Homo sapiens: one gene and its partner. The protein of the gene in region 2 interacts with the protein of the main gene of each other region in a pairwise test. Each region holds a gene or a part of one and is shown on either strand. Other genes may lie near its edges.

Region 1 (3,745 bases), on a different chromosome or scaffold from region 2:
TCACGTAGAGGATGGGGATGATGGAGGGGTCATCCCGGCGGATGATAGTGGGGATGTACTCAGCCTTGGGCACCTTGGAGGAAATGAGCTGCGGAGACAAAGAGCTGCTCAGGGGCCCCAGGCCCATCCAAAAGCCAAGGGGCTGTGGGAGCCCCCATGAGGCTACCTTCTGGCTGCCAGGCAGCCCAAGGGTATAGCCCTGTGAGACACCCTCCCCCAGGCAGCTGGAGAAGGCTGCGTGGTCCCAGGCAGAGCTGGCTGGACTCGGGTTGGGGCGGAGTCCTGCTCGGGGTGTAGAGGAGCACTGCCCGGGCTGGGCCTCACCATGACCTTTGGTGGCACGAAGCCTTCGGTGTCGCAGGCCACAGCCTCCAGGCCCTTCTCAGTGTCCCAGTCCAGGTCCTCGAAGGCCTCGTCCAGCGTGCAGTGGGAGCTCTGCAGGTCACTGCCTGGGAAGCAAGAGGGTCACCAGGACAGCAGGCCCGGCAGCACCTCCTATCCTGGCCATGGCCCCAAGGCCCACAGGGCCCGAAAGCCCCATCCCGGAGGGTCCTCCAAGCAAGTGGGAGGACCATACAGAGGTCGCCGCCAGCCCGGCAGGACAGGCCTGTGGACACCACTGGGCAGCGGCCTGATGTGGGAAGGGAGACCCTGGTGCGAGGCCGGTGGAAGGCGCGTGCAGGCATCAGCTCCAGCCAAGTCCGCCGGGCGCCTGGGAGGGAGTGGGGGCGGGCACCGCAGCCCCCTGCCCCTGAGGGCCTCTTGCGAGTGGCGGTGGGCACGGCCCTACAGGCGCCCCCGGCCAGCACTGCCGCGGCCGTTGTTAGCCCCGCCTTTGCGATCGGAGATGCTGAGGGCGTCCCCATCTCACAAACAGGTAAACCAAGATTCAGGAGTGCAAAAGCGCAGCCCAGCGGCCCTGGCAGGGGACCCCCAGCAGGGGTCTGGGGTCTAGGGGAGGCTCTGGGGAAGGTGGGCGGGCCTGTGCGGGGCACCTACTGTCTCGGGAGTCGTGGGAAGTGTCGGCTTTCATGGGGGTGGGGTCGCTCCAGGACCGGCTGAAGCTCCGCTCGCGCCGCTCAGCGAACGCTGCAGAGAGCAAAACCCGCATTAGCGAGCGGGTGGGGCGGGGCCTCGGGAGTCTCAGACCCCAGGCGAGGGGACCACAGGGGCCCTGGGCAGAGGAGGAAGCTAATGTGGGTGGGGTCTAAGGCACATGAAGCAGACACGGACCAGAGGCTCGGTTGGTTCAGGGGCAGGATCTGAGAACACTGGGGCAGGGCCAGAGGCGGAGTCTGGGAAGGGAGGAGCCTGGGCCGGGCTGGGGGCGTGGCTGGGAGGGGAGGAGCCTGGGCCGGGCTGGGGGCGTGGCTGGGAGGGGAGGAGCCTGGGCCGGGCTGGGGGCGTGGCTGGGAGGGGAGGAGCCTGGGCCGGGCTGGGGGCGTGGCTGGGAGGGGAGGAGCCTGGGCCGGGCTGGGGGCGTGGCTGGGAGGGGAGGAGCCTGGGCCGGGCTGGGGAAGTGGCTGGAAGGGGAGGAGCCTGAGGCAGGGCCCGATTGGGGTTGGGGCGGGGGTCGTTCTTATCGCAGCTAGCAGCAAGCAAAGCCCCAACCAGCCAAGCGCAACGCCGCCCCCCCACCCCCGCCGCACGGGGTCTTACTCTGGGCCTTCACCCTCCGGCTGCCGACCATGCGCAGGTGTTTGCGGAAGTTCCTGGGGGAGGAAGCCAGGGGCTGAAGAGGGCCGTGAGAGGGTGACGGCAGCCCCTGCCCACCTAGCCCCCGTCGGGTCATGGCTCTACTCTCACCCCTTCGGTGTGGGAAGCCAGTGCTCTCCCTGGCTCCTGGCACCACCTCCCACCCAAAGGCAAATCCCACCCAGTGCTCTTCCCGCGACAGCCTTCCAGGGCTCCCCTTCAACTCCAGAACAAAGGTGCAGTGCCTGGCGCTCTGGATCAAGTCTCCTCCCGAGCTGCATTCCCAGGCTCTGACCTTCCGTCCTCGCCCGGGACTTACGCCCTGAGCCTCCACGCCCATGTGGCAGAGGATCCAGCCTGCCTGCGCTGCAGCAGAGCGGGGCTCCTGTCTGCACCACCCCATGGCGGGCTGGGGGCCTGCAGGAGCCCCCTCTCCTGCTCTGTGTCCTTGAGCCACCTCAGGGGCAGGTCCTCTCCTCCACCAAACTTTGGACCCTGCCAAGGCCCAACATCCAAAACGGGCAAAAAAGCTTCCCAGACACATCTGTGTGATTGGAGTGGGGGAGGGGGGCCTTGCTGCTGGCCCCAGCCCAGACAGAGACACGTGCCCTCGGAGTGCAGGACTGAGGGTGAGATGCTTTCCTGCAGCCCGGGCCACATGGCCTCTCCTGCCTGCCACGTCCCCAGAGCAGGGCCAGGCCAGTGGTCGCCACCACCCTTCCCCCATCAGGTCTGCCAGGGCCGAGGGGGCCCAGGCCAGGCCAGCACAGACCAGAGATGGACCCTGGTGGCGAGTGGCTGGCAGGCCCTACCTCTGGATTACAGACGCGGAATCATTCTCCCGTTTCCGGCGCTTCCTCTCCGCGTAGCCCCTGAACACCCTGGGAAACCACCGCGAGTCAGCACTGCCCTTGGCCGGAGGCAGGAGGGACACAGACGTCGGGACAGTGGTGCGAGCAGAGGGCCCAGCAGGGCGTCTGGGGCACGGGGCCCGGCAGAGGAGTCCCAGCCTGCCTCACCTGTCGAGGCCCAGCTCCCAGCAGGCCCTGCTGCGACCTCGGTGCCCGCTGGGAGCCAGGCCCGCAGAGAGCGGCACTCCCTCAAGACCCAGGTCCCTGGCCTGCCCAAACCTATTTGGGGTGGGAGGGTCTCCCCAGGGACAACAGCTGTGCCCTTAGGCACCAAGTCATACAGGTACTTACGAGATGCTGAAGCCAGGGCCAGAAGGGATGGCGTGAGAGAGAAGACACAGTGAGCTCAACCCCGGGCCTCCCCTCAGCCCCCACCCGGTCCCTACAGTTCCCTTCTTGTCACTGACCCAATAGGTCCCTCACAGGTAACCCAGCCACCAGCAGGATGCTGGCTACACTGCTGGCCAGCCCTGAATGGGCAACGGAAGCTGATGTCACTGCAGCCCATGCCACAAGGACTGGTTGCTGAGACCAGGCAGCCTGAGGCTGGGTGTGGGGTGGACTCCCCCGGGCAGGACACTTCTTTGGTGTGGGGACCAATGCAGCAAAGGGAACTTCCCTGGAAGGAATCCCAGAACAGAAAAGCCAAATGTATGTCAAGACAGAGAGGAGCAGGTCCCTGCGGGGACCCTGAAACTGTGATGACCTATGGCACGTATGAAACAGAAGTAGGCTTCTATTTGGGGTTTGAGGGAGGGCAGACACAGGCTGAGGAGAGTGGATAGGAGCAGGAGAACCTGCCACACCCCACACCCCACTGAGAGCTCATCAGCTGCAGCCCTGGGCCAGGTCCCCTGACTGTGTGTGTGTGGGGGGGGGGGCTGGGCACCAGCCATGGGAGGGGAAGAGCAGTCAGCCCTGGCCTCCCTGGCAGGCCTGGCACAGCATAGGCACGTGGGTCTGTTCAGAAGCAGCCCCCCTGGTAGGCCCAGAGACTGGGAAAAAGTGCTGTTTCCTGAGCAGCAGAAAGAGACCACCCAACCCTGACCCCAAGTCGTGGGCACAAGACTCACGCTTGCATAGTTGTGGTTGCTGTCTGGAAGCTGAAAAGATTTTCCTTGGGGAACCAGGTACGAATA
Region 2 (3,745 bases):
TTGCCTTTGTTCCATATTGACCAGGAGTTCGTCTGAGATTCCAGAGACGCCAAATACGAGGTGTGGCGTGAAATTAGCTGCTACGTCTAATAGATTAGGAAGAGGAAAAGGCATATGACATTATACGGTTTTTTGCCTTTGGAAGCAGAATTTAATGGTCATTGGCTGCTCTGTCACCAACCCTCACACTAAGCACAATACAGATTTCTGCTGCAGAGCAAATTGGGCTGTAGCTTTGCAAAGAAGCTTAGTTCAGGGCACTGGAGAATTACATTTTTTGGTCCAAGGGCTTTTTTTGATGAATTGGAGAAGAGCTAGTTATTTGTGTATAAACGTTTGGTTGACTGCTGTTTGGAGGCAGCATGCTGTATAGAGAATGTGAAAGTCTAGATTCCGTGTAAACTCCAACATCAGCTAGGAGATGACCAAATTTGTCACCTTCATGCTTCCCTTTTTCCCCCATCTGTAAAATGGGTGAGCGTTGACTGTCTTGTTCCTGTCCTTATAAGAGTAGATTGTTGAGAAGAGAAATCTAGATGGAATATTTTGTGCTTTTTAGAAGATAAGTAATAGGACTGAGCTGGTAAATTTTTTAATGCTTAGGATTTGGTGCTGCTTGTGAGCTTTTCGACAGCTTACTATGTGCCAGTCTTGCTGGCAGCCTCGCAGCTGTGAGAAACTTGGTGAGTCTGGCCAGGGTAGTTGTGATTTCTGTGGATCTGCACCTCCTAAGTCCGCAATAGTGGGAGGATGAGTTTGGATTTTTAGCTTGTTCTCTTGTTTTGATTGGTAGGACCTGGAAATGGTGAGAAATTTCAGTCTTTTGCCAAAGGGTATATGCCTTTGTCCTCATTGTTGATTGGAGTTAATTATGGGCTTCTATAGTCTTTGCTGTATAATTTGGGGCTTTTGCAGTAACCTCTGGGCATAATTCCCTTTGCTATTCCCAACATCTGCCTTCCTACAATCATTTTAGAAGGTTTAACAATTCCCACATTTTAGCACTAAGCAAAACTTCCTTTTAGTTGCTTTTGAGTCTGGTAAGTGGACCTACCTGGATATATTGTCTTCAGTGTGGTATGAGTTAGCTTAGAGAAGTCTTTTTGTTTTGTTTTTTGTTTTGAGGTGGAGTCTTGCTCTGTCGCCCAGGCTGGAGTGCAGTGGTGCGATCTTGGCTTACTGCAACCTCTGCTTCCCGGGTTCAAGCGATTCTTCTGCTTCAGCCTCCCCAGTAGCTGGGATTACAGGGGCCCACCACCACACCCGGCTCATTTTTTTATTTTTTATTTTTAGTAGAGCTGGGGTTTTGCCATGTTTGCCAGGTTGGTCCCGAACTCCTGACCTCAGGTGATCTGCCTGCCTTGGCCTCCCAAAGTGCTGGGATTACAGTCATAAGCCACCAAGTCTGGCCAACTTAGATAACTGTTTTTAAGTGAGGTAAGAAATGGGCCCACCAGTTGGGTGTGGTAGTGTGCACCTGTAGTCCCAATACTTGGAAGGCAGAGGCAGGAGGATTACTTGTGCCCAGGAAGTTCAAGGGCACAGTAAGCTATGATGTGCCACTGCATTCCAGCCTGGGCAACAGAGCCAGACTCCATCTTTTTTTTGGGGCCGGGGGGATGGAGTCTCACTCTGTTGCCCATGCTGGAGTGCAGTGGCCCGATCTTGGCTCACTACAACCTCCGCCTCCCAGGTTCAAGCCATTCTCCCGAATAGCTGGGACTACAGGTACACGCCACCACGCCTGGCTAATTTTTTGTATTTTAGTAGAGACGGCGTTTCACTGTGTTGCCCAGGCTGGTCTCGAACTCCTGAGCTCAGGCAGTCCGCCCACCGCAGTCTCCCAAAGTGCTGGGATTACAGGCGTGAGCCACCACGCCCAGCTGACTCCATCTCTTTAAAAAGAAAGAAAGAAAGAAAGAAAGAAATGGGCCCAGCAACTAATCAGGTTTCTGTTCTGGGGAACTGGGCTAGGGCTTATAACACACATATGTTGGAATTCAAAGAGCTGGGCTTGATGCCTGTGGTCCTCAGTGTAATCTAGCATTGCTATTTCAGGAAAACCAGTGGAGTTCCCATGTCTGTTTCTCATATGTTGAGTTGATTGCCTTCCTTTGGATTTGGTGAGAGATCTAATTTGATCTGACCATTTTGAATCATCACGTAATACACACTTGGTTGGAAATAGGTACCTTGTTCACTTTTCAAGATTTGTTTTTTACCAAGTTAACAGATGAGGCTATTACTGGCTGTCTTCATGGTAGTGAGGTGGAGAAATGGAGGACGGTTCTGTAGTGGTTTCCTATCTATTTATTTGGGGGGGAAAAAAACAAAATATAGAATTCTGGAAAGAGAGGCAGGCTGCTTTGGCATCCATTTGGGGCCCTGCTGTCGTGGACAGGCCTGGCAGACGTGAGAAACTTTTTTCACTGTATCCTTGGGTCTTCAGGTCTAAAGGGATCTTTTTGAGTAATAGCATGACATGCTGAGAGCAAAATGATTTTATGGTGTGGCGAGGAAGTTCTGATTTTATGTTTGGGTTTTGGGTCCACACACTGTTGATCTTTTTAACTATTTTTTCCATGAAGTGGTTGTGGTTGGCAGCTCTCCTTTAGAACGAACTCCTGGGCTTAAAAAAAAATCTCTGTCCATTTGAGTCCTGTGCAGTGCTTCTCACTCCTTAACATTCTCTCTGCCAACATCATTTCTAAGGTTTTAGACCTTGGACCATGCCTCTTGGCTTTTCCCTGGAAGTTCCCTCTATAGGTTCTTTAGTTGGTTTATGATGGAGTTTTGGATCTGACCTTGCTGCACAGATGTCTGTGTATTGGAACTAAAAATGAACACATGGTTTTTGTGCCTGTAGCACATGAACAGACACTGGCTTATGACGTGTTGGAAATGGCACAGGCTGGCTGACTTGGCACCGTGTGCTTTAGCAGGGGCAGAGGTACATTGGAGCCATAAAATCTGGTATTTGGACATCCTAGTTTGGAAGTTACTTTAGAAAAGGACATGTGTAAATCTTAGGGCATCAGTACAGGAGATTTATGGGCAAGATAGGTTATTATTCTTTCATTGTTTTTATTTTAGGTTTCAAGGAATTTGAAAACCAGCCAATGGTTACATCTATGTGTTGTTGTTCTGTCTAGTCTAATGCTTTTAACTCCTTTATCCCATAAATCTGTTGCAGTACAGTTAATAATTTGCAGGGTAGAAATGGACAGAGGCATCCTGTTTTTTTGTTACCTACAGCATAGGCAGTAATTTAGCTGACACAAAGGACTGCTGGCCTCAAAGACCTTTGCCTAAGGCCTGCTGCCCTGTCCTTTTCTGTCACCTGAAGCACAGCCCACCAAATGCTATTCTTTCCCACCCTACTCCTCCAGTCTTTGTTGCTGCTAAGATGAAAGTGGTCTACTGGCAAAGTTAGAGGGGTATAACTTTGCACCCTAATGCTTTTTGAGGTGATCTGGGGAAGAATAAATAACATGGGAATGTAGTATAGAGGGTTAGTTTAAAATGTTATCTGAAATTCCTTTATTCATATTGCTCTCCAAAATATAGTGTGTCAGCTTAGAATGGCCTTTTATCATTCCAAATGGTTCATGTATACAAAAGGGGATATATAAAGTGTATGTCTTTGAATAATAATAAAATACAAATGTAGGTACCCATCACTAAACTTAACAAATAGAATGTTATCAGTACCTTTGAAGAGTGTTGCTTTCTAATTACATCTTAC

What was found. Proteins that work in one complex are often made in the same cells at the same time.
Region 1: the proteins of SOCS7 (region 2) and NSMF interact in binary tests that used the Homo sapiens proteins (3 or more experiments, as listed by UniProt).

The regions. Positions count from the first base shown.
Region 1 is NC_000009.12:137,452,732-137,456,476, forward strand, and holds part of NSMF (NMDA receptor synaptonuclear signaling and neuronal migration factor), read right to left. Parts: coding exon 3,680-3,745; intron 2,904-3,679; coding exon 2,898-2,903; intron 2,577-2,897; coding exon 2,508-2,576; intron 2,499-2,507; exon of another isoform or gene 2,356-2,498; coding exon of another isoform or gene 2,015-2,355; intron 1,713-2,014; coding exon 1,660-1,712; intron 1,090-1,659; coding exon 1,000-1,089; intron 450-999; coding exon 325-449; intron 89-324; coding exon 5-88; intron 1-4. UniProt on the Homo sapiens protein: Couples NMDA-sensitive glutamate receptor signaling to the nucleus and triggers long-lasting changes in the cytoarchitecture of dendrites and spine synapse processes. Part of the cAMP response element-binding protein (CREB) shut-off signaling pathway.
Region 2 is NC_000017.11:38,354,780-38,358,524, forward strand, and holds part of SOCS7 (suppressor of cytokine signaling 7), read left to right. Parts: intron 1-3,745. UniProt on the Homo sapiens protein: Substrate-recognition component of a cullin-5-RING E3 ubiquitin-protein ligase complex (ECS complex, also named CRL5 complex), which mediates the ubiquitination and subsequent proteasomal degradation of target proteins, such as DAB1 and IRS1.